Linked DNA regions of Homo sapiens: all the other regions are reported to be linked to region 1. The links are microRNA targets in miRTarBase. Many come from high-throughput screens and were not tested one by one. Region 1 holds a microRNA gene; each other region holds the end of a gene's coding sequence.
Evidence for each region. The annotated mature microRNA hsa-miR-125b-5p reads UCCCUGAGACCCUAACUUGUGA and lies in region 1 at 1,241-1,262, shown strand. An mRNA with a match to its seed (bases 2 to 7 or 8) in the 3' UTR can be bound and repressed. Matches are read on the target gene's strand: a 7mer-m8 pairs with bases 2 to 8, a 7mer-A1 pairs with bases 2 to 7 and ends in A, and an 8mer does both.

Region 1 (4,075 bases):
TTTTGGTTTTTGTTTTTTAACTATTTATTTTAAGCCATAAGTGATTCAGTATGGGAAATCAAATGATAAACAGAAAGAGATCTTATATAATGATGCATTACATCATGGAGCAGAATATTTAAAGTCTTACAAGGCAGAGTAAAGATCTGGACAGGGGGTGGGGGGTGGTGGTTGGAAAGGGGTGTGGTACTAGGGTGGAGGAGGGGGGCCAATTACCAAATATTTTGTGCAGTATAGCTTTCCTTGCAGCTTACTTGGAAATGGATGATTCACCTGTTCTACAGGAAAACATTCTAATTCTTTCCATTTTTTTTTTTTTCCTCCTCTTTTCCCTTTTAAGATCAACCACCTCAGAAGAGCCAGATTCCACTTCTGTGGCCAGGACTTTTACATTATGGCTGGTCCGATTGTTTTACCCTGCGTTCTATGCTACTAAACCTTGGATCATTCCTAAAGTACAAATTCTGTTCTCGAACCACAAACAAGGCTAAAAGATCGGAGGAAATTCAGTGAATATACAGGATTGGGGTTGTGTATTTTTAAAAGTATTGAGCTTTATAATGTAATTATTCAAGAAATAGAATCATGGTTTTTTTATGATGTTGCCAGCATTTTAAATTACATGTTTATTAAGTGGCATTGCTCAAATAACTACAGAGTATGCGTGGAAATATTTGCTGTCTGAATAGTTTGGAGATTCAAAGAGAAAAATCAAGCTTCAGAGGTATTAAATTATGACATGCAGAAAAGTTTTTGTTTTGTTCTTAACTGCAACGGTATATATTTAAATCCGATTTAAAGTATTATATGTCCTGGGCCCACCTTACCAGTTGTGCTGTATAGCAGTGTAATGGGAAGCAAAATTTCAATTAGGGTCCCATTAACTGGCATATAATCCTTCTTTAATGTAATAGAGGCTATGGTGTTGCTGTACAAATCTGCTAGAAGCAGATTTTAACCCATGTTTAGTCTCTTTCTTTGGATCTAATGGAATGACTCTTAACTGTTCATTGTCTGCATTGTTTCTCATATTCTTCATTATTTTAAGGTCTGGAATTAGTCTATAAATGGTCGTCGTGATTACTCAGCTCATCCTAACTTTTATATATCATATATATTTCTACTGAAGTATTTTAAATAGTATTTAGAGGTAAAAGTCTAAGTGAACCCAACTGTAATTTCTAAGCTATCCTTATTTCTGGAAGAAGAATTCTACCGCATCAAACCAGACTTTTCCTAGTCCCTGAGACCCTAACTTGTGAGGTATTTTAGTAACATCACAAGTCAGGCTCTTGGGACCTAGGCGGAGGGGAACCAGCAGCTTTGGACCTTATTGATTGTCTGCAGTTACCACCAGAACAAAAGAACATACATAGATTCTGCCTAGGAGAAAAGAACAATGCTTTTCTTTATCATCAGCAACGTTTTCACCATGACCCATCCCCAAAAATACTATTGTCAGAAACTGTACTCTAAAGTGATTACACAGTTGCACTGAAATAGCGTTTGTATTATAACGATCATACAAAAGCAATATAAGAAACCTGTGTAAGAAGCAAAATTAAAATATAAGTGTTTTAAAATGCTTCTTTTGGTGCATTTTAAGGTGGCTAGTATAAGAGGATATCTCTTCAGTTAATGAAGAGAGGGGATTATATTTATAACTTTTCATATGCATTGAAATATATACATTAGCTACTTAAATAAATCCTGTATGCCTCCATATAACTATGGCTCAGACTATGTCATATACAGCTATAAGCATGCTTGAGGCCTAGAAATAACATGATTTACAATCTTCTTTATTGACCCTATTAGATTTTACTACCGATTTAAGAAGAATGCTGTTTTATACTTTGTATTTATTGCCAGGGCTTTTCTGAGTCTTCTATCCAACCAACATACTTTATATGTCTTAACAATTCTAACAATTATTTTGTTACGAGAGTCCAAGAGTGAAAGTTTCACCAATAATCTGGGAAAATATGTCTTTTTAAAATTTTTTACAGTTTACTGTGTACATATCATGGGCCTACGTGAGATAAAACAGTAAACGCCACCTATGAAGTCAAACTGCTTTGACTAGCAACTGCATATGAACTGCATAGTTTTAGTTTTATAAGAATTTTAGCTTTATCGGAGGTAACTATTCCAACCATAAGTAATATGTCATATTTGAAAGTTTAATAGCCATTGCCACATCAGATATGTCTTTCTTGGAGATAGAATCAGTATGCTAAATCTATTTAAAAATTTTACAATAATGTTACAAATATCAAGATTCAAAATGGAGATGACAGACTTTCCTTAATAGAAGCAACAAAGTGGCTTCATTCTTTTAACTATTGCCTTAGATGGGTGCCATAAATTATGTGTCTTCTGCATTGTTAAAATAAATTTATGAATGTATTTTAGAATACTGTACGGAGTCTTTGTTCATCTTTTTAAAAATTTCTTATAATACCTACTTGAAATATTACAGAATACAAATCATCTATTAGTCATAGTTATTAAAAATTACTATAACAATATCATAAACATACACATCTATATAAAGCATGCAGAATATGTTTAAGCATGTATGCACACTGTACCTATTCAGATTCTTTATTTATATCATCTACTTCATTTATCTAGAAGTTCTGAAATTTTAGGTGTGTGTATGTATATGTATAAATATAAGTTTTAAAGCTCCAAATGAAAGGAGGTAATATAAACAGTAAAGAGCTTTGGTAGTATTTATCTTTTATTTCTTTTGACCTCATTCTCATTGGAATTGAGTATTTTTTAAAACCATAAGTTTCTTAATACAAAGAAATCTATGTATGTGTGTCTACATGTACACAGAAGCTTGATTACATTTAATAGCAATGTTCACACAATGGATCTGAAAGTACTTCTTGTAAAAAAGAATATCACATACAAGTATGTGTTTACTAACATCTGTTTTAACATGATCATAAATAATATCTGTGAAAGGTTCCATCAAGTTAGTTCCAAAACAATGTAAGGGGTAGATGTTTATTGGCTATAGTGATATCAGATATAGGTTATTCAAACGTGAAAATTTTTTAATGTTATCATATTCATGAACCACACTATATATTAACTTCTGTCTCATAAAAGAAATATACCAAAACTGAATTGAGAATGCAGTCATGTTTGTTCATTTTCACCATAAACATATAAAATGTTTTTTACTGATAATCCTGCACAATTGGAACTTCTCTATGTAACCCTCCTATATGAACAGTCTTTCAAGAGCGTCATTGACAAAGCTTTTCTTTTACTTCATAAAGGTGTATATAGATTTAAGTGGGTGACTTTGCTTATGTAGGCTACTTTATGCTGTATGTGCATAGACAGATGCCACTTTTTCTGCATTTCTATCTCAGCTGTCACAGGATAATATTGTTTTAGGGCTTTATGATATGATTTGGAAAATCAGATCATACTAAGCTTAAAATAAAAAGGAGAGATCTACAACAAAGAGCGAGAAAATGATGTGTGTTGCATGCAAAAAAAACAGTGATATTAACAATTCGATGGCTTCCTGGTTGGGAGACCAGCCTGAGCCAGACGCATATATTAAGGGCTGTCTGCTGCCGATGTGAGCTTGCTCAATGCGGTGGAAATGAGGAATCATCTCCTTTCTGACACCAGCTTATTTGTACATTTTAATTTTGAAATAGCCAATCACTGTTTTACATAAATATACTAACCCCTGCCTGATTCATTTTCTTTCCCATATTGTTTGTTAATTTACTGTGAACTTCAAGTTCCTTTTTTTGGCAAAAAAAATCATCATTCAACTTCAACATCTACCAAAGACCAATGAAGTATTAGCTTTTCTTTTGTCTCTTTTGTATTGCTCTGATAATATTGTGATATTCATGCTTTTAACTTTTAATCTCTGTAAGGAAAACATCAATTTTCCAAAATAGCATTTTTTAAAGCCTTTTAGGATCCATCAAGGAAGCCACTCTGGAATTTTGCCAAATCTAAATATGATTATATTTCATTTCAGGGTTCATGGGATCAATATCTTTTTCAGTATAAAAGTCCCAAACACTTT
Region 2 (4,075 bases), not on the chromosome of region 1:
AGAGGGCTGAGAGCGCTTCCCTCCCACGCTAGGAAAGAGCCGTCCTCACTGTCTGTCCTCTGCCCCCAGGTTGGCTGGAGATGGAGTGGGAGCCGTGAATATCTGTAAGTCCTTGGCTGCGGCCCATGGGAAGCATCCCTTGTGCTGTTTAGATGGGGCTGGGTCTAGAGAATGGCAGACTGGCCCAGGGCCCTGCTGGAGGGGCCAGGAGACTCCTTCCTTTCTACAGGGATTGACAGGTCCCCTGGAGCACATACTGCCAGGCTCAATGGCCTGGGAAGCACTACAAGAGGGCAGGGTGGGGCCAGGAGCACCTGGGGAGCAGCCCTACCCCTGTCAGATGCTCCTTCTGGGTTGGCCCATGGAGGGGGGCAGGGGTGAGGGAGAGGGGCAGCTGGGGCAGGAGGGTGGGGTGCAGTGAAGGGATGGGGTCCCTGGTAGGGAGCCTCACGCTGAAGAGAGCCCTCCTCTTTTCTCTCCCAGCTGTGATGAATTCCACTGGTGGCAGTAGCAGTGGCGGTGGCATTGGGCTGACCCTCGGGGGAACCATGGGCAGCAATGCCCTGAGCTTCTCCAGCAGTGCGGGTCCTGGGCTCCTGAAGGCTTATTCCATCCGGACCGCATCCGCCAGTCGCAGGAGTGCCCGCGACTGAGCCGCCTCCCACCACTCCACTCCTCCAGCCACCACCCACAATCACAAGAAGATTCCCACCCCTGCCTCCCATGCCTGGTCCCAAGACAGTGAGACAGTCTGGAAAGTGATGTCAGAATAGCTTCCAATAAAGCAGCCTCATTCTGAGGCCTGAGTGATCCACGTGCCTGGTATCCTGGCTTCATGAGGCTGGGCAGGGGAAAAGACGGGACTAGAGAAGGCAGGGTCTCCCTGGTGACTAGGAAGCCTTTTGTGCAGGAGACTGAGAAGGCACATGGTGGGATGGGGTGCTGCTCTAAGGAGCAGGACGCTTACCTAGGGTGAGCCTTGGCCTCCAGGTCTGGGGCTGATCCCAAAGATTCTCCTGAGGAAGCCCAGAAGAGCCACGGGGAAATGCAGGCTCTGCCAGCAATTGGGCCTTGGAGGGCTGCCCTGCTAAGGGGGTGGAAAGGCTGTTTGCCTCCCTCCCCCCATGCCCAGAGCTGCCAGAGCACATTCCTTTTGTGAGGAGGCCACAGACGTTCAGCTGCCCCAGCTTCCAGTTTCGGGTGGCCCAGCCAACTTTCATGCCAGCCGTCCTCAGCCCTTCCTGGTGCTGGGTCTGCCAGGCTCATGGTCAGCCAGGCCTGGGGCCCTGGAGAGGTCCTCTGCATCTTGAATTCTGTGGAGGTAGTGGTTGTGGGGGGGAGGTGTGTGTGTGCATGGGAGGAGGGTCCTAGAGTCTAGATCCCCGGTAACAGGTCTGTGCCTAGGACCTTAGTGGAGGGATGGGTTTGTATCTGGATCCATGGGAGTGGGGAAGGACATCTGTGTTAAGTCAGTGCTTGATGGGGGCTTCTATGTCAGAGTCCCCGACACACAGGTCTGTGTGTCTGTGAGTGTGGCAGGTGTTCTGTGGCAGGGCCTATGCATGGGGAAATGTGTCCCTGATGGGCAGCAGCACATATGATGGGTACTGTGGAGCCACAGGGAGGTCTCTGTGTCTGGGACCCCAGGGGTGATGGTGGTGGTGTGGATGGGGGAGCTATGTGGGATGTGTTGGCTTCTGGGAGGAAGTCTGTATATTTGACCCTATGGTCAGGGAACTTTCAAATGCTGAGGTGGGGGCTGGGGTGGAGAGTGGAAAAAGTGGACCAGCAGCCACAGTGATGGGGTTCCCACCCAAGGTGTCAGGAGATCCAGGCCCTCTCCCTCCCGACTAAGAAGACCAAGTGGGCAAGAGGAAGGAGAGACTCTCAGGGCACAATGCATATGATCAGGAGCTTTACTGGAAATGCTGAGACAAGCACAGGGGAGAGGGAGGGAGCCAGGCAGCCAGGCAGGAGAGGTGGCCTGTCCTGCACGTGTATTAGAAGACATTGGATTAGAAGGCACAGCAAGTCCACACCAAGGGGCTCCAGGCCCATCTGTCCCTCAGAAGCCACAGGCATCCAGGCCTCCGGACCGGGGTCTTTACCTAGGGCTGCGAGGACAGTCCTTTAGATTCGGGGGTTGGGAGAGCTGCGGGCTAGGAGCCCTGTGCTCTCGGAAGCAGTGAAGGGACTAGCGGGCGGGGATGCGAGACAGGAAGGCGCGGCGTGGGGGCCGATGGGGAGGCTGGGCCCCGAAGCCCTCCTTCCCCACGTCTGGGGACCGTGGGAGCTCCGGGCTGCCTCTGGAGGCAGAGGCTGCTGCTGGTGAGGCGGCGTCGGTACAAAGTGGGGCGCTCAGGCGAAGCGCACGGAGCGGCCGCTGCCGCTGCTCTGGCCGCAGGGCGCACACAGGCCGGTGCTCACCGCCACGTTCCCGCTGCAGGGGGCACTGCAGACGCTGCCCGTCACCGGCCGGGAGCCCGACACGCACAGGTCCCCGCATAAGACCCCGCCGCGAGAGCTGCTGACACCTGCCAGAGGGGGAGGACAGGGCCCAGTCTCCTGGCGGCCAGAGGCCCCTTCTGCTCAGAGCTTCTCCCCTCTGTTTCTATGCGCGCCCCTCAAACCCTCACATGGGCACTCCTTCCTGCAGTCTTAGCCTCAGGCGTCCTTGATACACTGTTAGCCCAGGTCCTCTCTATAGGCAGACATAGCCATGCTTCGCCTCACAACAGAGACATGTTCTGAGAAATACAGCATTAAATGATTTTGTCATTGTGCGAACATCATGGAGTGCACATACGCAAACCTACATGTTGTAGCCTACTACACACCTGGGCTCTGTGGCGAGGGTGGCCAACCTTTTTTATTTTTTATTTTTATTTTTGAGACGGAGTCTCTCTCTATCGCCCAGACTGGAGTGCAGTGGCGCGATCTCGGCTCACTGCAACCTCTGCCTCCTGGGTTTAAGTGATTCTCCTGCCTCAGCCTCCCTAGTAGCTGGGATTACAGGTGTCCATCACCTTGCCCGGCTAATTTTTTTATTTTTAGTAGAGACGGGGTTTCACCATGTTGGCCAGGCTGATCTCAAACTCCTGACCTCAAGTGATCCACCTGCCTTGGCCTCCCAAAGTGCTGGGATTACAGGTGTAAGCCACCACACCCAGGCCCCAAGGGTGTCCAATCTTTTGGCTTCCCTGGGCCACACTGGAAGAAGAAGAATTGTCTTGGGCCACACATAAAATACACTAATACTAACGGTAGCTGATGAGCTTTAAAAAATCACACACACGAAAATCTCGTAAGTTTTAAGAATGTTTACAAATTTGTGCTGGGCCACATTCAAAGCCGTCCTGGGCTGTATGCAGCCTTCTGGTCAGGGGTTTGACAAGTTTACCCTATAGCATAGCCTGTTGCTTCTAAGCTACAAATCTGTACAGCATGTGACTGTACTGAAGACTAAAGGCAACTGTAACACCATGGTAGGTATTTGTGTATCTGAACATAGCTAAACCTAGGAAAGTAGAGTAAAAATATGGTATAATCTAATGGGACTACTGTCCTATATTCCATCCATCCTTGACCTAAAAGTCCTTATGTGGTACATGACTGTAGCTAATTAAGTTACTATAAGCACTCACTGCCCCACTCCATCTTTCCTTTTAGAGTCTGCAAACTACGGCCACATGCAGGCTTCCTGTTTGTCAATCAAGTTTTCTTGGAACCCAGTCATACCGCTTCCTTCAAGTATTGCCTTTGGCTGTGGCTGCTTTACATGACAACGGAGTGGAGCAGTTGAGGCAGAGACTACATGGCCCACGAGCCTAAAGTTTTTACTATCTGAAGCTCTAAGAAAAAGTTTGCCTGCCCAGAACCCCAAGCTGTTATTTCAGGACCCACAAAATGGATTACTTACAGACATTTACAGCACCAACGCCCTCACACAACCTTATAGGGAAAGCAAAGAGACAGAAATTAGTTGTGGGGAGCAAAGCTGGTGAAATCTGTTTAACCTGCAAATTCTCTCCTCCAATTAGCGTTGATGCACATTCCAAGTAAATAATATGCAGAC
Region 3 (4,075 bases), not on the chromosome of region 1:
AATAATTAATGTTTTTAATCAAATTAATTATCACAATTGGCTATGAGGAATTTCAAACCTATAAAGTGAAATAGAACTTATTTAAACTGACTAGTAATTCTGTAACTTTTATTTTACAGGTCATGTAATGTTTGCAGAAATAAAAATGGAGAATGGAAAGTCAAAAGGCTGTGGAACAGTCAGATTTGACTCCCCAGAATCAGCTGAAAAAGCCTGCAGAATAATGAATGGCATAAAAATCAGTGGCAGAGAAATTGATGTTCGCTTGGATCGTAATGCATAATTTCAAGCCATGGTTGGAACATTCCTACATCTGTTTTGCTGAATCTCCTAGTAAAAGTCATTTTTTTAAAGTAATATTGTATGCTTACAAAAGCTGTAAAAATGAACTTTTAAAACTCCCACCAGCTTTTAACAGTATAATGTTAAAAATATACTGTAATTTTTGTTAATCTCAAGTTTGGGTTTTTAAAGACAGCAAGTCTGGTCATTCAGTTTAAATGAATGGTTATACTGTTTTTAATGAAATAAGCCATTTTCTTGTTGTTTTCAGTACTACATAGTTGGATTTGTTTGTTCTAGTTTCTCCAGTTTTTGTCAACTTATTGTATGGTAAAACATAGATTTTTTCCCCCCAAACTTCTGTTTTATAATATGTAATTTTTCATGAAAAGAAAGGGCTCAGAAAAATTAGGATGTGATTTTGGTTGGTTTTAAATTACTGTAAGTTTTAGATTCTAAGGTTCAAGATTTTTAAAATTTGATTTAAATGAAGAAATGGATTTTTCTCTCTGCCCCTCCCTGCCATTCATATTTTCTGCATAACACTATTAATAATATCAACCTCCACAGCCCCTTATTTTATTATTTCCAATAATTCCAAGTTCATATAGAACTGATAATGTAGCAAGCCCCAAGTATGATAATAGGCAGACTATTCCCAACTTTCTGTCTAGTTTCCAGCCATTGAAGTGAACTGCTAAAAAAAGAAAAATAATTGAAATGTTGAGAGAGATGGTTATGTAAGTTAGTCCTCTGCTGTTTACTTCTGCAGGAGCTGATCCATTTATAAATGCAGTTTTAATAAACCATGGAATACCAAGGCACAACATATCAAACACATTGGATCCCACGATGTTAGACATAGCCATATCTCCTTTCCCTACAAAAGAAAAGCATACTGTTAAAATGTGCTTACCAATACTGTGTTTTATTAATAATCTTCATAAGAAAAGAAACACTGGATACTTTTTTGTTGTTGATTCGTTTTGAAAAATTGTTGTTAGAGCAAAAGTCTTACTGAATTTGTATTTTTAAATTTTTCTTGGGTTAGTATTTAAAGTCTTAACATTTATTTAATAATTATATTTATTAAACCATTTTTCAATAAGGTATATAGCTTATTTGTTGCTTTTCATTGTAATTTAACATGGTTAATGGTTAATTACTATTTAACACACATTTCAAATGAATATTATTTGGGGGATTAGATTGAGTGAAATTAACCTGCTATTAAATAGTAAACTTTTCCTCTGGAGTCACTTTTTTCCCCCTTCAAAGTATGTTACTGAGGAAGTAAACTTTTTTTTTTTTTTTTGGTTTTTGTTTTTTGAGACACAGTCTCGCTCTGTTGCCCAGGCTGCTGGAGTGCCGTGGCGCAATCTCGGCTCACTGCAACCTCCGCCTCCTGGATTCAAACAATTCTCCTGCCTCAGCCTCCTGAGTAGCTGGGATTACAGGCACATGCCACCACGCCCGGCTAATTTTTGTATTTTTAGTAGAGACTGGGTTTCACCATGTTGGTCAGGCTGGTCTCAAACTCCTGACCTCGTGATCCACCCGCCTCGGCCTCCCAAAATCCTGGGATTACAGGCGCGAGCCACCACACCCGGCTGGAAGTAAACATTTTTAAAGCTACTTTTACTCATTCTAGCCTTGTAGAATGACCATTGCAGCTTGAGGGACCTAGTTCTTACCTTTTCTTGCAACCAACACACTTGCAATTGTGTCTGGTATGCTTGTTCCTGCTGCTAATAAAGTAAGGCCCATTACTGTATCGGGAATTTCTAGTGTTTCCCCTGTAATAAACAGATATTTCAAGTTACAAATCTTAAAGATTCACTAACCATCCTTTGCAGTTATTTTGGATATTTCCTTCGTGAACAAAAATAAAATAGGCACATTTAGAATTCAGAGCCAATATGTGCTTGCTTATTAGTTTTTTAGCTAGCAACATATTTGAATCAGGCTGGTAATTCGGGTAACCCAGGTAGCACAGATTTTTAATGACATATCTAAAGATACGTAACAGCTAAAATTCTGCCAGTGAGAAATTTTCCTGTTTGATATTCTTACAAAAGATGTTTATGTCCACCATTATCTCATCAGGGCTGTGCTGAATATTTGATAATGAGACTGATCATTCCGCTTTTTCTTTCTTAAAAATATTAGTCAGAGTTAAGCAAATTAATTATAGCTATCTTTAAGCTATAAATGTGTTAACATGTATATATACCATTTATTATGTTCTACTTTAGTGATATACCTTAATTTAGTGGGCTTTGGCAGGGCGGGGGAGGGGGAACGTTCATTAATCTCTGAGGAAAACAAAACCTGTTTTCTACTTGAGTCTAACATATGGTCCCAATTTATTAATACTTCTGTTAAATTTGATGTCAGGTCAACATTTTTCAGAAATGTATTTATTCTCAGAAACAGAACCAGAGAGAAGTTAAACAAAAGGTTATGTAACTGTTCCTTTAATGTTGTAATTGAAAACTTGGTTTAGCGTCTTTTTTTTCTTTCTCTTTTTTTTTCTTAAAATGCCAACTAAAATAATTAGAAAGTAGCTTATTTATTGCATGCTTATACATTGATATTGGAATTGGAATTGGTTGTTAATTTCTGTTACTGGCTTTGCTAGAATTCATATGTGCATAAATAACACTAATATTTATCATCTTGGGGGCTGTTCTGTGATCTATTACATGATTTTTGCTCTCTTTTTATTTTTCTAGTATCAAATGTGTTCTGGCTGAGTGAATTTGGATAGATATAATATGCAAGCTAATTGGACTTTTTCATTTTTCTCATTAAAAAAAGGAAGAAGTAGTCCACTTTTTGCTAGCATACTATTCTGAGACTTACATTAATTTGGGAAAAGTCAAGGGTCAACAAATTTTTGTGTCTGTGAGGGGCCAGATAGTAATTATTTAGGCTTTGCAGGCTGTGTGATTTCTGTTGCAGTTATTCAGCTTTGCCAATGTAGTGTGAAAACAATCATAGATAATATGTAAAACCTTACTAATAAAAACAAGCTGGGTTATGTTGGCACACAGGCAGTAGTTTGTTCACCTCTGCTGTAAGTTAATTTGGGTTAACCTTTGTAGGAGAAATTACAGATTATTTTTGTCTTTGTTCATAGTTTTTTTGTTTAGGGACTGTAGTGGATTATGGCCAAGCAGCAGTAGCTAGTTAAGTCTTAATCATGAAGGTAGTAGAAACCTAGAATAAAATTATTATGCCCTTTTCACTCATTTCATAATATGTTTGTATTGCCGTGTTGAAAAGCCAAATAAAATACAATCCAGTTAAGCAGTGAGCACCCATTGTTTTCCCAAAAATAGAGCTCCTTGCTTTGTTTTTGTTTTTTTGTTCTTTTTTTTTTTTATTATGGAATGGAATTCAATATAAAGAGTTTATTGTGGACCCCATGGAATGTGATTAAATTATTAGCATAATAAAAAGACATCCTATGAATTTGATTTCATTTATAAGATCTCTTGAATTGTACCCCAGGCTAAATAACAGTGGAAAATACAGTTTATATATAATATGCAACTCACAAACTCCAGTGATCTTGTTATAGTAATACTTAATCATTTTGTAAATGGTACTAATCTTCAATCTTGCTGAAAAGAAATTTGCTGTGTAGCTAGACTACTTTGAGTGAACATATGCAATTTGTTCTTATATGAATATTTTCAAGTTGTGCTATTGTACTTAAAATACATACCAGTTATTGTGACCATCCAAACCAGGATATATGTAAATGCGGATATCCATATTGCAGACA
Region 4 (4,000 bases), not on the chromosome of region 1:
AGGGAATAGGTTGCCAACTGTTTAAAGGCCCTAGGGTGACTGGCACTGGGCCCTGAGGATTTGGATACATCCAGCTTTTATATTCTCTTCAGCCATTTCCTTCTTTCTGTTTGACTTCTGTCCTGGGCTTTTTTTTTCTTTTGCCTACTAAGTAATAGTTGTTTTTTTGTGTGTACAGAAACATTTAATCCCTTCCTTGCTTTTCTCTACTCTGGATCCCCCATGATACCCTCACTTTTCCCATAGGGTGCGCCTGGCTGGGATGAAGATCTCTCGGCCCCCCACATCTGTAGGACACTATAAGATGGTGAAGCACCGAGGAGATAAGGGCAATGAGGAAAATCCCCACAGGTAGGAAGAAGGAAGGACTGCCTGGGAATTGTTACTGGATCCTCAGGGTTCTGTACCCCTAGCCAGGAAAATCCTAAAGGTCCCTAGATTTCTGGCTGTTCCTTTCTGGGTCTTAGTCTCCAACCTCTAACCCTCAGATTTGACCTCCTGGTCCGTACCCAGAATTCCTGGACGCAAGATGGGATGAACTCACTGACATACCAGTTGCTGGCTCGAGAGCTGGGGCCTCTTTATACCAACATCACAGCAGACATTGGGACTGACCCTCGGGGTCCTCGGGCTCCTTCTGGGCCACGTTACCCACCTGGTTCCTCCCAAGCCTTCCGTCAAGAGATGCTGCAACGCCGGCCCCCAGCCAGGCCTGGGCCTCTATCTACTGCCAACCACACAGCCCTCCGAGGTTCACACTGACTCCTCCTTCCTGTCTACCTTAATCATGAAACCGAATTCATGGGGTTGTATTCTCCCCACCCTCAGCTCCTCACTGTTCTCAGAGGGATGTGAGGGAACTGAACTCTGGTGCCGTGCTAGGGGGTAGGGGCCTCTCCCTCACTGCTGGACTGGAGCTGGGCTCCTGTAGACCTGAGGGGTCCCTCTCTCTAGGGTCTCCTGTAGGGCTTATGACTGTGAATCCTTGATGTCATGATTTTATGTGACGATTCCTAGGAGTCCCTGCCCCTAGAGTAGGAGCAGGGCTGGACCCCAAGCCCCTCCCTCTTCCATGGAGAGAAGAGTGATCTGGCTTCTCCTCGGACCTCTGTGAATATTTATTCTATTTATGGTTCCCGGGAAGTTGTTTGGTGAAGGAAGCCCCTCCCTGGGCATTTTCTGCCTATGCTGGAATAGCTCCCTCTTCTGGTCCTGGCTCAGGGGGCTGGGATTTTGATATATTTTCTAATAAAGGACTTTGTCTCGCATCTGCTCCTGCTTTCTGCATCCCAGGCACACTTTGCCTCTTTGCTGCCCCGCATTCTTATGCCTATAGGTGATAGAACAGCCAGACCAAGCCAAGCTCCAGCAATTTTTATTTTCATGAATGAGAGTTGGGGATCAGCTGTTAGGTTCTGTGCCCAGGACACTGACTGCTGCCTGGCGCCCACTCTCTATACAGTCATTAACAGCAACTCCCTCATAGGAGGCTCCAGCCAGAGTCAGGGGCAACCTGTGAGCAGTCAGGAATTGCCTAGCTGACTCTGGAAGGAAAGGATGAAAGGAATGTTTTAGCTGGGGGTCTGATGTCCTTGGCCCTCCTCAGCCCAGCTGTTTTCCCAACTTACCTAGTTTTTGCCAGTGACCTAGTGTATACTGGGGAATGCAGTTCTGAGAAGAGAGGAGAGGATGCAGGGAAAAGTTTATTATTGATGTCCTAGGCCTTGGCTGACATACAGTGACAAATGTTCCAGTCTCTGTCTTCAAGGCCTTCAGTGGAGAGCTGAGGGAAGTTTATCCCAACTTACCTTGTGTAGATGGACCAAGCAGTGGCTCGGCATCTCCTTCAGTCCTAATTGTGTAGCAGCTGCTTCCTGGGCCCGCTGTTGAAACAGCTCCTGAGATAAGACACAGCCACTAGCCTCCAGTGTCTGTAACCAGGAACCTCCCAGCATCACCTAAGGAGGGAATATAGCACTGATCAGTCTGGCCTTGCCTACAATGGAGCACAGAGGAGCCCTCTGGAAATGCCACTAGGCAAAGTTTCCTCCTCCTCACAGTCACTCTGAGGCCAGGGGGGCTCCCGTCCTGCTCAGGGAAAGCAACTGAGTCATACACGATTCCCAGGACTCCTGGATCTTCTGAAGATGGCACCAAATGTCCAAATCCCTGGAGAGAAGGACATTCATGCGTCAGAAGGAAAGGGCTCTAGCTGAGGCTGTCTCTCCTTCCCATTTTTTTGGGGGGGTGGGGGGGACAGAGTCTCACTCTGTCACCCAGGCTGGAGTGTAATGGCGAGATCTCAGCTCACTGCAACCTCCACCTCCTGGGTTCAAGCGATTCTCCTGCCTTAGCCTCCCGAGTAGCTGAGATTACAGGTGCAAGCCACCACACCTGGCTAATTTTTGTATTTTTCGTAGAGATGGGGTTTCACCATGTTGGCCAGGCTGGTCTCGAACTCCTGACCTTGTTATCTGCCCACCTCGGCCTCCCAAAATGCTGGGATTACAGGTGTGAGCCACCATGCCCAGCCTCTCCGTCCCTTTATCATACCTGGACAGGCAGATGGGCTCCTTGGTACTGCAGATTCACCACAGCTACAGACACTGCAGTGATGGCACTCAGGGCACGAGCCAGAGGGGCAGCCTCAGCAGGGAGCAGCTCACTGAGCACTAGAGATCAGGCAGAGGCCTGACTCAGAAGGCATTCCCATTACAGTTGTCAGTCCTCTTTGGGATTAGACTCCCATAGAGATGACCAGTTCAGGGGCATGGTGTGGTCCTGCTGACCCAGGAAGGTATAGCTTTTGCTTCTCACTGGTAGGGGTTGGGGAAGGGGAAGGTGGCTATTCCATTACCTGAAGCTGGAATGGCACTAATAACGTGGTCAGCCTCCAGACTGCTGTCCCTTAGAGATACCTGAGAGCATGAAAACATTTGAGAGACCCAGAAAATGAGAATTTGATGAGTGAAAAGAGACTTCTGGTGCCTCACTCTCAGTTTCCCAGGCACCCATGTGGCCGGGGAGACTGTGTACTGACCCAGGATGAAGAGATTGGGTGACTATGTAGACTTCACAAAAAATCATTCCTCTGTGTACTCCAGGAAGTGGACCAGACAGGCCAGTGTGGCTGTTCTGAAATGTTCAGTGAAGCTGGGTTCTTTCCCCTATCTCTAAGCCACTTATAAGTACTACTTCTATCCACAGACTTGCATAGGCTCTTTGAGGAAGGTTCACAAATAGGGCCTAGGATTCTGGGGTAGCCCATGTCTAAGTAGCTTCTAAGGCACAAAAACAATGAGGAACTCCAGTCCTATCGGCCCTGGCCTAGTTAAGCCACTTGGATAAAGATGGAAACACTGACAGGTTCATTACACTCCAGGGGTTCCCCTACCTTCCAGCGCCCTTCTGCCTGGAGGCTGAGCCCACAGACCGGCTGGCCTCTGAGAACACTGACCCCCCTACTAGTCAGGTGGGTTTCAAGGGCCTGAGGCAACATCTCTAGACCTCCACGAAGTGACCACTGGCTCCAGCGCTCAGCCAAGGCCTGGCGAATGAGTGCTGAGTCTGGCTGTGGGGTCCGCCCTGCAGAGGAAGCAAAGAAGAATCATTGAGGCTGGATGCAGTGGCTCACACCTGTAATCCCAGCACTTTAGGAGGCCGAGGCGGGTGGATCACTTGAGGTCAGGAGTTTGAGACCAGCCTGGCCAACATAGTGAAACTGCATCTCTACAAAAAAATACAAAGATTAGCTGGGAGTGGTGGCACATGTTTGTAATCCCAGCTACTTAAGAGGCTGAGGCAGGAGAATTGCTTGAATCTGGGAGGCGGAGGTTGCAGCGAGCCGATCTGAGATTGCACCACTGCACTCCAGCCTAGGCAGCAGAGCAAGACTCCGTCTCAAAAAAGAAAAAAAGAATCATTGAATAGCACCCCTTGTCCCCACTCCCTCACTTTGGCAGTACTTAATATTTTCACCCTCTGAATCAATCCCCCCTCA
Region 5 (4,075 bases), not on the chromosome of region 1:
GCTGTGTGGGGCCATAACACCCCAGCAGATCGCTGTGATGACCTCAGAGGTGAGCCCCTGTTGGAGGGGCTGGAGGGCTGCTCCCTCGGAGCGGTGGGCTAAGCCACTGGCCCCGTGCTCCAGGAGATGGCCAGTGATGAGCTGAAGGAGATCCGTAAGGCCATGACCAAGGAGGCCATCCGAGAGCACCAGATGGCCCGCACTGGCGGCACGCAGACAGACCTGTTCACCTGCGGCAAGTGCAGGAAAAAGAACTGCACCTACACACAGGTGAGCGGCCGCTGGGCACCCTCCCCCGGGCCCGGTGTCTTCAGGGCATCTGGTGCCCCTCCTTGGAGCCCATGCCTATTCCCGCCTCTGCTGCATGAATTTCCCGAGCCTCTCAGTCCCTGAGTAGGCTAAGGCATGATGGCCACCTTCAGGGACCACTCCCCTCTACCCAGGACCTCTGGGCTCCACGGGGCGGCGTCTTGGGTGGTGGGACCCACTTGTTGCGGATACTCAAGTCAGAGGGCCTGGCCTGGCCCAGCCCAGCCTGAACGGAGGGCCCTCGAGGTGTTGATGTTGGTGGGAGGGCCGTGCTGCCTGCTGCCTGGCAGTGACTGCAGGACCCTCAGTCCCTGCCATGGAGGTGGACACTGAGTGTGCTGGGGAGACTGTGGATCCCATGAGATGGCAGGGACCCTGTTAAGAGGGGAGTGCGGCTGGGTGCAGTGGCTCACATCTGTAATCCCAGCACTTTGGGAGGCCGAGGCAGGCGGATAATGAGGTCAGGAGTTCGAGACCAGCCTGACCAACATGGTGAAACCCCGTCTCTACTAAAAATACAAAAATTAGCTGGGCGTGGTGGCGCATGCCTGTAATCCCAGCTACTCAGGAGGCTGAGGCAGGAGAATCACTTGAACCCGGGAGACAGAGGTTGCAGTGAGTCCAGATCGTGCCACTGCTCTCCAGCCTGGGCGACAGAGCGAGACTCCGTCTTTAAAAAAAAAAAAAAGAGGGGAGTGTGTCGAGGCGGCCGCTGCACCTGGCAGATGGGACTCGTGAGGGGCTGCAAGGACAGCCTTTCCTTCCCCTCGAAGGCTGCATGGGGCCTGGGTCGGTGCAGAGCCTGCCTCTCTCCTGCTCCCAGCCACTGGTCAGAACAGGCTCTGCCTGTGGCCGGAGGCTCACCCTTGGGCCTTCCGGAAGGCAGCCGCGGGCACTGGGGACCCCTGCTAGTTCCCCCCACCATTGGGACCCTCTTGCCCTCAGCCAAGTCTGGGCCCTCCTGGTCCCCAGCCAATGTGAGCTGCTTCAGGCTCACACAAGGGCCTCTGCCCCGATAAACTCTGTCTCCCTCCCCCGGAGGCTCAGCTTTGGAAGGTTGGAGTCACGAGGCGGCCTCGGATCAGGTCACCTGTGGGAGCTCAGTGGCTGCGAGGCCCGCACTGCCCATGTTGAGGGGATGCCGTCTGCAGCGGAGCATGGAGGTGACCCTGGGTTCACCCAGCCCTGTTCACAGGTGCAGACCCGCAGCTCTGATGAGCCCATGACCACCTTTGTTGTCTGCAACGAGTGTGGAAACCGCTGGAAGGTGGGTGAGCAGGCTCAGGCTGCCCCTCCCAGCTCCATTCTCTGGAGGTGGGGTGTCTCAGCCTCTGTGGGGTCTGTGGTGTGAACTGGGGATGGCCCTGCCCAACCAGCCTCCTGGGAGTCTTGGGCATGGTGGGTGGAGAGCCCAGCCTTGGGTGAGCCTGTGCGGCCTTCCACTCTGGGGGATCTCATGTGGCCACAAGGCTGGAGGCCTCACCCCCTTTCTCGCAGTTCTGCTGACCCCTCGTGTAGATGTGCTGCAGCCTTGGGCCCTCCCCGGCCCACGTCCTCCGTTGACACAGCTTCTCTGGAGACCCTAGAAGGCGGCATGTCCTGCCCTCAACCTGCCTGCCTGGATTGCACCTTTCTGCCCTTTCCCCCTCATTATTAAATGTTTCTTTTTGCCATCTTGTTCTCCTCAGCCGTTACTCCTGGTGGGCCCCTGTCCCCCATGTTTGACCCGTTTCCACTGCTGTGGACAAGGCCCCTCCCTGGGGTTGGGCAGTGCTTGGGTTTGGCCCTGGTGGGTCAGCCCCAGGAGAGGAGCTTGGCTGACCTTCAGAGATCACCTGGGGCGGCTCTGCCTGTGAGGGCAGGTGGGGAGAGGGTCTTGTGTGCGTCCTGTGCAGGGCAGTGTCCTCCCCAACGCCTCAGGCATGGGCAGCTCGGGACCTCTCGGCACTTCAGGACAGCTTGTCCCCATGCTGCCTTCTCTGTTCTTGTGGGAGTTGTGGTCTCAGGGCCCTGAGCCAATTTCAGCTTCAACTCACTTAACTTCCCAGAAATGCAGGGGATGGGCTGGTGAGCACTCAACTCATGGGGCCTGTGAGATGAGAAAGATGACATTGGGCCTGGCACCAAGTGGCCCCTCCTGCCCCAGCCAGCCTGCCTCTGGGGACCCCGTCCGGCTGGGCCTGGGCGGCACCTCCTGTTGCCTCTCGACTTCTGAGGTGCTGTGGGTCACTGTTCTGGCCCGACTTTCAGCTAAGGAGGCTGAGGCCGAGGGCGTGGAGCTCATGCCCCGGGCAGGGTTAAGCACAGCCACCCACTGGGACCACTGTTCTGAGGAGGGGTCTGGTGGAGGCCAGGGCATGGGAAGAGGGCAAGCACACGGCTGTGTGTCCCCTCCAAGGGGCACTGGAGCCCCTGCCCTGGGACAAGGACACTTCTCCCCAGCCCTGAGTCTGGGGCCACTCATTCTCCAGTCTCTCCCCAGACTTGGACAAAAATGAGTAGAGACTTTGCTTTAAAAATATCTTCAATAATAAGACATCCTATTTTTGGGGGGTTAGGGATAGAGATAAATATGAAAACTTTTTTTTGATAAAACACCTAGTAAGGACATGTTTCCAGGTTTAAAGTTCATGAACATATAAAACAGAAATTGGGTCCTGCCACCTTGAGTGCAGGATTCTGAGGTCCTAAATCTGGTTCTGAGGTTCTGTGTTTGATTCTGGGGTACAGACAGCTCAAGTAGGAGGTCTCCTTATGTCACAAAACTACACGATGCGGAGGTTCTGTTCCCCACCAAAGGCTTGTCTGGGGCCCATTGGCTGCCTGGGGAGGAGGCCCCAGCGAGGCTCATGGGTCCAGCATGGCTCCTGGGGGGACCCCTACTCTCACCACGCAAGAGCCCCCAGCCAGGAGCACTGGGCCAGCCAGCTGCGGGCCGATGAGGGGGCTTCTGGCCCGCCCTGCACCTGGAGGCCCGCCCTGCACCTGGAGTTCCTGCTTGGCCACGGGTGGGCAGACCCAGGAGACACAGCACTCCCCACTGGGTCTAGGACCGTCTCCGCGGGTGGGGACCCCAGCCGGCCAGGCATGTGCCCTGACAGCCCTGCCGACAACAACACCTGAAGGGAACCCAGAGTCGGCCGTAGGAGGCGGCGGGGTCTGTGCTGCTGGGGGCGGCCTAGGCCTCGGAGGAGGACTGTGATGGCCCCTGCAGCAGCAGGGCACGGTAGGTGGGAGAGCTGAGGAAGCGGGGGTAGGAGTCCCGGTGCATGAGCGTGTAGATCTGCAGCTGCGCGTCGTCGAACGTGTGTGCGGACGGCTCCTGCATCTTCTTGTTGATGCCCTCCCGCACACGGGAGTCCAGGCTCACCTGCAGGACAAGACACTGAGGTCAGGGGGTGCGGGAGCTGCCTTCCCCACCTAGTGCCTGGAGCAGGCGGCCCCCGGCCTGTTCTGGTGTCTGGCGCACCTCCTTGGGGGACAGGATGGATACGTAGTCCTCGTAGATGAGCCTCGCCTTCTCGTCTACCACATGCTGGTTGGCCTCGGCCTTCAGCTCCTCGCAGGCCAACCAGAAGAGCATGTTCTCCTCGCTGTACTCTGTCCGCAGGAACGCCCGGAACACGCTGCGTCCCGCTGGGCTGTGCATCAGCTTGTCAAAAGACTGCGCCCAGCTCTGCACCTCCTCAGGACTTGGCGTGGCACTGTGGGCACGGGGGCCAGGCTATGTCAGGCCCGAGTCTCCCGGTCTGGGGCCCCCCCAGCA
Region 6 (4,075 bases), not on the chromosome of region 1:
GTAGTATACCATGGAGGCTTAAAAAGAAAGACAATAATAAGAATTGTATTGTTTTTACAAAGGGATCCACTTTATACATATTGGACATTAATCGTCATCCTTGAATGTGTCATTACAGATGAACTGAGCGCCAATGGACAATATCAATGTCTTGCTGAACTGTCCACCAGCCCCATCACAGTCTGTCATGGCTCCGGTATCTCCTGTGGCAATGCACAAAGTGATGCAGCTCACAATGCTTTGCAGTATTTAAAGATAATAGCAGAAAGAAAGTAAATCTGGAGCAACTTAAAAAATCTTTCAGTAGCACATAAAAAGTTCCCCTCTGGCCCCTTCCCAAGTAAAACTTTTACCGTAGTGTTTATGTCTTGTTTCTAAATCTCTTCATAGATTCCATCAACACTCCAGATTTAATTATCTCCTCATAGTTGTTATTAAGCTCTTTTTAATGGCTTCAACTTTGTATCAGTATACTGTATTTATAAACTTTGTACCACAAGAGAGAGTGTAGCACCCATTTTACAGTGCCATGCACATCAGAGAAAGAAACTGCATGTTTGTTGTTGATGATGAAATAAAAATGCTAGCGACAGTCTTTCTTACTGGTGCTTAAGCTCTTCTTTGCACAAAGCTTTATAAAGGGAATTCAAAGGAAGCCCTTTAGAATTAGAGTCTTGAGGGACAGCACTAACAGGCCTTTATTAAGTATGATTGATTGTTAAATTTCAGGGAACATGATTGGTCTGCTGTGTATTTGAATTCATGTAACAAAGAACTGTTACGATGGGATTCTGCTCATTTTATTAAAAAGCTACTGACTTGACTGTCATCCTGTTCTTGTTAGCCATTGTGAATAAGATTTTAATGTTGATAATTCTGTTATTTACATATCTCTAATTTACTTTGAAATTCAAAGGTGAAAATAAAAAATGATGGCCTAAGTAAAATTTACAAACATACATGTAATGGGTTACTTCCTTACTTTCTCTAAGCGTATGCAACCTTGTATTTTTCTTTGACATAACCATACACAGGTGAATTACTAGTTTAAAAAGCATTTGACCATGCATGTTGGCTCATGCCTATAATCCCAACTCTTTCGGAGGCCAAGGTGGGAGGATCCCTTGAGGCCAAAAGTTTGAGACCAGCCTGGGCAACATAGTGAGTCCCCATCTCTACCAAAAAGAAAATCAGGTGTGGTGGCACACTTTGAGTCCCAGCTACTCAGGAGGCTGAGGTGGGAGGATTGCTTGGGCCCAGAAGATCAAAGCTGCAGTGAGCTAGGATCACAGCACTGCACTCCAGCCTGGGTGACAGAGTGAGACCCTGTCTCAAAAAAAAAAAAAAAAAAAAAAAAAAAAAGCGTTAGTAGAATTACCCAAAAAACCTTCCCAGCTTATTCAGTTCAGTTGCAAGAATGTTCCAAAGTGATGAGTGATTAAAAGGTTAGGAAATAAGTCTAATGAACAGATTTTAACCTTACCTTTTGTGTTTCCATATATAATCTTGTAACATCTCAAGTCTTCCATCTGTCAGCGCCGGCTCGTGCTAGCTTTCTACATTAGGTGGAAGTCTCAGCTCTGTGTTTGGAGTGCAGGGAAAGCTTCATAGAGGAAACATGAATGAAGGTAGGTCTCATGTATTCATACAGAAGGAAGCATGTAGCAGGTATTTTTGTCTGGAAAAAAATCATATCTGGAATTCTTTGAGAACAAAACTACAAAATAAAGGAAAACCAGTACATGTAACTTATTTTAAATTCTAAAGAGCACTTACCATAGTTCCATATTCTAAGCTCCATTTGTTAAACCATAGAAACAGGTACTTTTTTGGCAAGGTAAGGAATAGACTTAAAAGACTGGAAAAAAAACTAGGCATAATAGGATCTTGTGACTCTTTAAAGACTGAACTAAGGTTTTAGTAAATGGTCTTGGATATGGGGGAGGCACAATGAACTCTCCAAGATGACATTAGACTTCTGCATACTGAAATCCTGACTTGGATAAATTGGGGGAAAATTTCATAAGGCTGATGAAAAGGATATTACGTGGTTGTAGACAGTCCGTATGTATTGATAAAATGAGGTCTGAGGATAAGGTGCCCAGAAGATAAAATTGCTGCTGCCTCTGCTTTCCCTGCTTCTGGCTCTGGAGGAAAGTGCATTACACTGTTCGAATGTCACTTCTCAGACTATCCAGACCTTCTAGGGAGTTAGGGATTTTCTTGGACCATCAGGTGTATTCTTTAACACCATTTTGTTTAGCCCTCTGCTAAGGCTCTTAACCAATCTAATTAGTCAAACTTGTTAAATATAGGTTAATTTCTCAAATAGGCTCAACAGGTAATTGTGTCATAGTCATCTTCATAGTGTCAGTTCTAACAAGAACATCCATTAAGTGATAAGTGACTTTAAAAGATGAGGATGGCAATAGCACAATATGATAATACTAATTCAATAAGTTATTGAGCACTAATGTGCCCAGCACTATAGCAGCCTCTGGGAATATGTGGGCCCATATTGTGTTATTTGATGAAGAGCCGCTCCCTTGTTCTCGGGGTGTGCTGTGATATGCCACACAGTCCCCTTCCCTACAGAGGATTTTGTTTTCTCGCTCTGGCAGTGTGCACCCAACGGCCCTCAGCTGTCAGTAGAATTGCCCTCTTAAGTGAAAAGAGCCACCTCATCTGAAGTCACACTTCCTTCTTGGGCCAGGCTGCATGCAAAGACTAGTCCCATTGCCCCATATTAGAACAATCTGAAAGACCATCCTAGCTTCAGAGTTCCCCTTAGTGTCAGCTAAGGCCACCTTTGAGATTGCATCATAGTCCATATTCTTCCTCCACCCAGTGGAGTTTCCTTTCTTTCCACAGGTGGCAATCCAAATCTCCTACCCACTAATCTTCATCTCAGCATCTGTGATACTTGGTATCAGAAGGGTTGCAGGAAAGTAGGTGCTCCAGTGTGCTTTTGGAGCCATTTCTCTTGCCTTCTCACTTATAGGATGAGAGTCTCCTCACTGGGGCAGGGAGAAGTTAACTGCTAGCACACCCTGACAGTGCAGTTATTAAAACTTTGACTAGTGGTGAACTGAGATGGCATGTCAACACAAAGAAATGCACCGGCAGGCACGAAGATCAGGTGGGAAACAGTGTAGACAGTGGAACTGAAGAGTTATTACTGAGCTAGACCGATACCTTGGAAAAAGATAACAGAAGAATGAGAATGGGCCAGGCATAGTGGCTCACACTTGTAATCCCAGCACTTTGGGAGGCTGAGCCAGGAGTTTGAGACCAGCCTGGGCAACATAGCGAGACCCTGTCTCTACAAATATTTAAAAAATTATCCATGCCCAGTAGCTTGTGGCTGTAGTCCTAGCTATTTGGGAAGCTGAGGCAAGAAGATCACCTGACCCCAGGAGTTTGAGGCTGCAGTGAGCTATATTTGCACTACTGTACTCCAGCTTGAGCTACAGAATGAGACCCTGTCTCAAAATAAAAGAATGAGAGTGATTAGTTGGTAATTAGAAGCTGAGTGTGGGACCAAGAGCCGTGGCTCATGCCTGTAATTCCAGTGCCTCAGAAGACTGAAAAGGGAGGATAGCTTGAGGCCAGGAATTCAAGACCAGCCTGGGCAACATAGCAAGGCCCATCTCCACAAAAATTTAAAATCAGCAGGGCATAGTGGCATGCATTTGTTGTTCTGTTACTCAAGAGGCTGAGGCCAGAGGATAATTTGGGTCCAGGAGTTCAAGGTTACAGTAGCTTACTGTGCCACTGCACTCCCAGCCTGGGTGCAACTACACACTCAGCCTTAGTGACAAAGCAAGATCTTGTCTCAAAAACAAACAAAAACTCAGTGTGAGGGCCAGAAAGCCTCCCTCGTAGAATATGAGACTCTCAGGTTCTCAAGCCAATGAGGAGAGGAAGCTGAGGACCAGGCCCAGGACTTAGTCATGAGAATAAAACTCCAAAGAAGTTAGGACCCAAGCTAGGCAGGTCTACTGTGCTGTTGTCAGGACCCTGATTGGGAAAAAATGGAACCCTGACACATGGGATGAAACCATCTGGGTTGATG
Region 7 (4,075 bases), not on the chromosome of region 1:
CAGACACTTTACTTGGGCACAGGGCTAGAGATGATTAATACATGGTGGCTGCTGCCCCACCAGAGCTCACCTCAGGGCCGTTTGGCCACAGTAAAGGAGTGGGCGCCTGGTTCAGCTCCCTGACTCTTCCACATTGCTGCTACTTGGTTTGGAGCCCTTTTTTGGAACTCACTTGGAACCTTTCATGTTCCCAGATGTCACGCAAGGTTTCCTGGCAGTACCTGTGTCTCTTGCTGAGGGAAGCATCTGGCTCCCATTTTCTCATCCCCTCTGCTCTGTTGGTGGCCACAGACCACATTCCAGAGTAGAGGGGTTTACCCTGGGGTGGAAACCTGAGCCTGCCCAGCAGAGGTTGGGAGCCTGAGGTCATGCTCCAGATGACTTGCCACTTGGAGCCATACTTGTCTGAGCACGTTATGACCTGCACAAAAAAGCCAGACCAGCAATGAGCAGGCCCAGGATAGACAGGGAGAGGCCTGGAGAGGACCACAAACCCATTCGGGCGGGCTCTGGAACTGGAAATAAAAGCCTTTTAAATAGCCCTGGAGCCTGGGCAGCTGCCTCCTCAGTATGGCCTGAGGTGTGGGGATGGGTTGCCTGCCGCCTCCCTCCCGTCCCCCCGGAGGCCACGCCTTTCTGGTTCAGAGCTTTATAGGCACACATACCAATTAGGGGACAAACCACAGCTGCTCACGCGCTCTGCCAGTCTGCTGCTGTGCCTGGAATAGAACCCAGGCGCCCGGCACCCCGCCCCTCCGCAGCCTGGCTCTGAGTAACAAAACCCTGCTTCCATCTCAGCAACCGTGCACACCACCCTTCCTCCCACGCTAGAAAGTCGCCCCCAGATTCTTAAGTTGGAAGGTTTGGTTCCCATGACAACAGACTTGAGCTGGCAGAATGGGTGACCTGGCTCTGGGAGCCTCCGCAGCGCGGAGGAAGCCGCATACCCTTGCTGACCAGCCAGATAACCGCAGTGGCTCTGTCTTTGTGTTCTTGGGTCCTTCCGGGTAGTTCCCCTTTTAAGTCCCCCTTCACCCCCAGCTCCGTGTTTTTCTGCAGCTTCTCTGGCTGCAGCAACCTCGGAATCCCACAGTGCTTCGAGGAGGCAGGCGGAGGGGGCGGGGAGATGGGAGAGCAGGCGAGTGAGTGGAAAAGCACCGACAGGAAGGAGGGAGGGGAGCTGAGTCTGCGATGGATCTCATTTCCTGCACGTCCTTTCAGTCCCCTTGACCCCCGCAAGAAGAGGATGAGCCCTCCAATTTCTTAGGCTTCGCTACGGAGATGTCAGCGGGAAGGCGAATTCCAGATGGGGAAACTGAGGCTCGAGCTGCAGACTTGGCTTTGGAAGAATCACCTCCCGCATTCCCTCCCACTCCCGCGGCTTTCCCAAAACCCCTAGGCAGCGGGGGTGGGGGTGCGGGGGCAAAGGAGAGTCTACCCTCCTCCCGTGAAGCCCTCCGGGGCGCTTCGGGTAGGCAATTTTAGTCAGGAAGGGGCGGGAACTAACGAAACGTCCTCTCCCCTCTACCCAAGGCGTTTGCCCGGCGCCAACCCGCCCCCGCCCGCGCCGGGGTCTCCTCTTCTGCCTGGAGACAGCCGCAAGCTTAGACTGCACACTCCACTGCACACTGACACGCCGCACTCAGATCCCCACCCCCACAGCGGACCGATCACACAATGGCACACGGTACACAGATCCATAGGCACACAATCGCACACTGTCTCATAGGCACAACGGCATTGCAAGCATACACAACCATATTGCACAGTCACACACACACACGCAATTCGGAAACATCTAGACGCGCAATGACACAAAGTGGCCTCCCGATTCCGCCCTTCTTCCAGCACCCACCTCAGCTCATCACTTCATGCACACATGCCAGGAGCTTCCATCGCTTATACAGAAACGTTCAGCTTTTCAGAAGAAACGTTTTATTATTTTTTTGTCGAAGAAAAAAAGCCATATAAATATTAGAGTATAAAACTTGCGTGAGACACAGGAAGAGGGTGGGGTGGGAGCTACGTGACTATGCGAAGAGAAGCGCTTATAGGAGAAGTCAGTACGGGGGAGGGGGTCGCCTTAGCGCGTGGACACAGCACAAAACACAACACGGGCCGCCGCGGGCAGATCAAGGACAGACGGCTGCGCGGAGCCCGCCGCCCGCTGCCCACCCGCCATCACGTAAAAGCACACCGCACTACACTACTGGCTATTCTACACCAGCCGAAAGAGGGAGGGGGCGCTACACTACTGTAAGGGCAGGTCTGGGGTTCTCTGGCAGCCCCGCTGGATGGCCGGGGACCCAGGGGCAGAAGGGGGTGGGAGAAGAAGGTCTATGCACAAGGAGGCACTGGGGAACTTTAACCAGGCTATGGCCACTAGGGGGCGCACTGGGGACCTGGGCAGTGGCCTTCACGGAAGAGAAACGGCACCTGGCAAGGTGAAGGACTGAGGCTTCAGGAGGGCAGGGGCCCTGTTGAAGAAGCCCCATCCTGGGCTGAGACTTTCTGTTCATTTGGTCCCTGCCCTAGCTCCCTGCCTCCCCAACCCAGGGACTAAGAATGGCCTGGCTGGCCCACCCTTCCTGCTGGGGCTCCGCTGACCCTTCCACCAGTGGCACCTCTGGAGTACCCAGCACCCACAGAGGCCCCTCTGACCTCTCAAGGGGACCTGGTCCTAAACCTGCTTCGAGCTTCCTTGGACTGAAATGCCAGTTTAATCCATTGGTCCTGTTAGCTCAGCCCAAAGCTGGCTGCCTGGGCTGAGCCCTATTATGTAGTGGGAAGGGTCCAGCCTAGTTATTGGTTTATGGCTGGAATCTGGAGGATGTTGTCAGTCCCCTGAGGACATACAGAGCCTCCTCCAAGGCCTTGATAACTTGATGTGTCAAGCTTTGTCCATGCCCCCACCATCCACATCCACACACTTCCCTTCCTTATCTTACCACCCCATACTGTCTTGGAACATGCAGTGGAGTCTCTTGTTTGAGGAGGAGGTGGGGGAAGTCAAGGCATGCAGTGGAAACGTCAAACAATGAAAAACAAAACAGAAGACTGGTCCCCAGGGCGTTGGGAAGAGGCTTGGTAGCAAAATGCCCTCCCTAAATCCAGCAAGCATCAGTACCATGGGGATGGTGATCATGTCCTCCAAAACTTGAGCATTGATCTTGGGCTCTGGAAGGAGGTGAAGGGGCTGGCACCAAACCATGCTTTGGGGGAAGATTGAGAATCAAAGGAGAGGCCAAGAGGTCATGATGCCCTTCCAACTTTTCAGAACTAGGAGGCTTGTAGGTTACTTGGTACTTCAACACCCCAACCACCTTACTCGGGAAAGAGGAACTGTTGGAGTGGGGTGGGGAGGAGGGAGGCATGGGATGGATGGGCCTGATTGATTTGGAAGATGGAGGAGTTCAGCTGTAACTAAACGGGGTGTGGCAAATGGTTCTTGGTGTCTACAGTAACCCCACTACCCCCATGGGTACAGCAGTTGATTGGATGGGGGTTCCCAGCGGAACTGCTTTTGCATATTCAACCCCCTGGGGGGGAAGGGGTAGGTGCTGACTGGGCACTTGTTTCTGTTTCCCAAGGGGAGCATGGCCTTGGCCCCTACCAGTATTCTGGGGGTTAGCCCTGAAACTCTGAGGCCTGGGTGCAGGTAAGGAGAAGCTGGGCTGGTTGGGGAGAGGCCGCCCTGTGGCTCTTGGCCTGGCCTCCATGTTACTTCTTCTCCTTCTTGCCCGACTTCTTCTTGTTGCCATTGCCACCTGCTGGGGCCTTGCCATCCCGCTTGCCAGCTGCGTTGGTCAGTGTGGCATTGCTGCCTGGGATGTAGACATTCTGGCGGTAGTCGGGCACGTGCTGCAGGGTGAACTGGGGTCCGTAGCGGGCGCTCAATCCCATGGTGCCGGCACCCCCTCCCAGGGTGGAGCTCCCATCAGCAGCTTCTGCAGAGACAGAGGAAGATCAGGTGGGAGCTAAACTTAGGGTCCTCAACAGTCACTGTCTTATATCCCCAGCAGTTAATGAATGCCTATACAGCACCCTGGGCCTTGACCACGCTGAGCACTGGGAA

Region 2: miRTarBase lists KRT7 as a target of hsa-miR-125b-5p. The part of its 3' UTR that is shown has no 7-base or 8-base seed match.
Region 3: the mRNA of MYEF2 is a reported target of hsa-miR-125b-5p. The part of its 3' UTR that is shown has no 7-base or 8-base seed match.
Region 4: the mRNA of B4GALT3 is a reported target of hsa-miR-125b-5p. Seed matches in the 3' UTR shown: 7mer-m8 at 1,217-1,223.
Region 5: the mRNA of RGS19 is a reported target of hsa-miR-125b-5p. The part of its 3' UTR that is shown has no 7-base or 8-base seed match.
Region 6: the mRNA of PRKRA is a reported target of hsa-miR-125b-5p. Seed matches in the 3' UTR shown: 7mer-A1 at 726-732.
Region 7: the mRNA of PCDHGB2 is a reported target of hsa-miR-125b-5p. Seed matches in the 3' UTR shown: 7mer-m8 at 2,843-2,849.

Annotation. Positions count from the first base shown.
Region 1 is chr21:16,589,013-16,593,087 of GRCh38, forward strand. MIR125B2 (microRNA 125b-2) reads left to right here and starts at 1,225; the gene lies at 1,225-1,313. The region is part of intron 6 of MIR99AHG (mir-99a-let-7c cluster host gene); the gene reads left to right.
Region 2 is chr12:52,248,108-52,252,182 of GRCh38, forward strand. It overlaps KRT7 (keratin 7), which reads left to right. Exons shown (of 9, transcript NM_005556.4): 8 at 70-104; 9 at 484-814. The coding sequence ends at 653. It also overlaps the pseudogene KRT87P. Among named protein-coding and RNA genes, the nearest start is that of KRT7-AS, 2.7 kb to the left of the region's middle. RefSeq lists enhancers at 1,693-2,299, 3,829-4,075.
Region 3 is chr15:48,139,116-48,143,190 of GRCh38, reverse strand. It overlaps MYEF2 (myelin expression factor 2), which reads left to right. Exons shown (of 17, transcript NM_016132.5): 17 at 120-4,075. The coding sequence ends at 283. It overlaps SLC24A5 (solute carrier family 24 member 5), which reads right to left. Exons shown (of 9, transcript NM_205850.3): 7 at 4,016-4,075; 8 at 1,977-2,078; 9 at 519-1,162. The coding sequence ends at 840. Among named protein-coding and RNA genes, the nearest start is that of SLC24A5, 20 kb to the right of the region's middle.
Region 4 is chr1:161,168,578-161,172,577 of GRCh38, reverse strand. It overlaps B4GALT3 (beta-1,4-galactosyltransferase 3), which reads left to right. Exons shown (of 8, transcript NM_003779.4): 7 at 247-351; 8 at 489-1,268. The coding sequence ends at 762. It overlaps PPOX (protoporphyrinogen oxidase), which reads right to left. Exons shown (of 13, transcript NM_001122764.3): 7 at 3,395-3,585; 8 at 2,858-2,918; 9 at 2,554-2,672; 10 at 2,059-2,169; 11 at 1,809-1,958; 12 at 1,629-1,671; 13 at 1,358-1,544. The coding sequence ends at 1,402. Among named protein-coding and RNA genes, the nearest start is that of PPOX, 4.2 kb to the right of the region's middle.
Region 5 is chr20:64,070,366-64,074,440 of GRCh38, forward strand. It overlaps RGS19 (regulator of G protein signaling 19), which reads right to left. Exons shown (of 6, transcript NM_005873.3): 5 at 3,779-4,013; 6 at 2,816-3,679. The coding sequence ends at 3,488. TCEA2 (transcription elongation factor A2) reads left to right here. Exons shown (of 10, transcript NM_003195.6): 7 at 1-49; 8 at 124-270; 9 at 1,505-1,576; 10 at 1,807-1,982. The coding sequence ends at 1,815. Among named protein-coding and RNA genes, the nearest start is that of MIR6813, 4.6 kb to the right of the region's middle.
Region 6 is chr2:178,428,298-178,432,372 of GRCh38, reverse strand. It overlaps PRKRA (protein activator of interferon induced protein kinase EIF2AK2), which reads left to right. Exons shown (of 8, transcript NM_003690.5): 8 at 119-959. The coding sequence ends at 276. It overlaps CHROMR (cholesterol induced regulator of metabolism RNA), which reads right to left. Exons shown (of 5, transcript NR_110204.1): 3 at 1,484-1,603. Among named protein-coding and RNA genes, the nearest start is that of CHROMR, 17 kb to the right of the region's middle.
Region 7 is chr5:141,510,819-141,514,893 of GRCh38, reverse strand. PCDHGB2 (protocadherin gamma subfamily B, 2) reads right to left here. Exons shown (of 4, transcript NM_018923.3): 4 at 1,919-3,947. The coding sequence ends at 3,721. PCDHGA1 (protocadherin gamma subfamily A, 1) reads right to left here. Exons shown (of 4, transcript NM_018912.3): 4 at 1,919-3,947. The coding sequence ends at 3,721. PCDHGA2 (protocadherin gamma subfamily A, 2) reads right to left here. Exons shown (of 4, transcript NM_018915.4): 4 at 1,919-3,947. The coding sequence ends at 3,721. PCDHGA3 (protocadherin gamma subfamily A, 3) reads right to left here. Exons shown (of 4, transcript NM_018916.4): 4 at 1,919-3,947. The coding sequence ends at 3,721. It also overlaps PCDHGB1, PCDHGA4, PCDHGA5, PCDHGB3, PCDHGA6 and PCDHGA7, and 13 more genes. Among named protein-coding and RNA genes, the nearest start is that of PCDHGC5, 24 kb to the right of the region's middle. RefSeq lists enhancers at 1-108, 80-329, 109-734, 1,070-1,189, 735-1,360 and 1 more.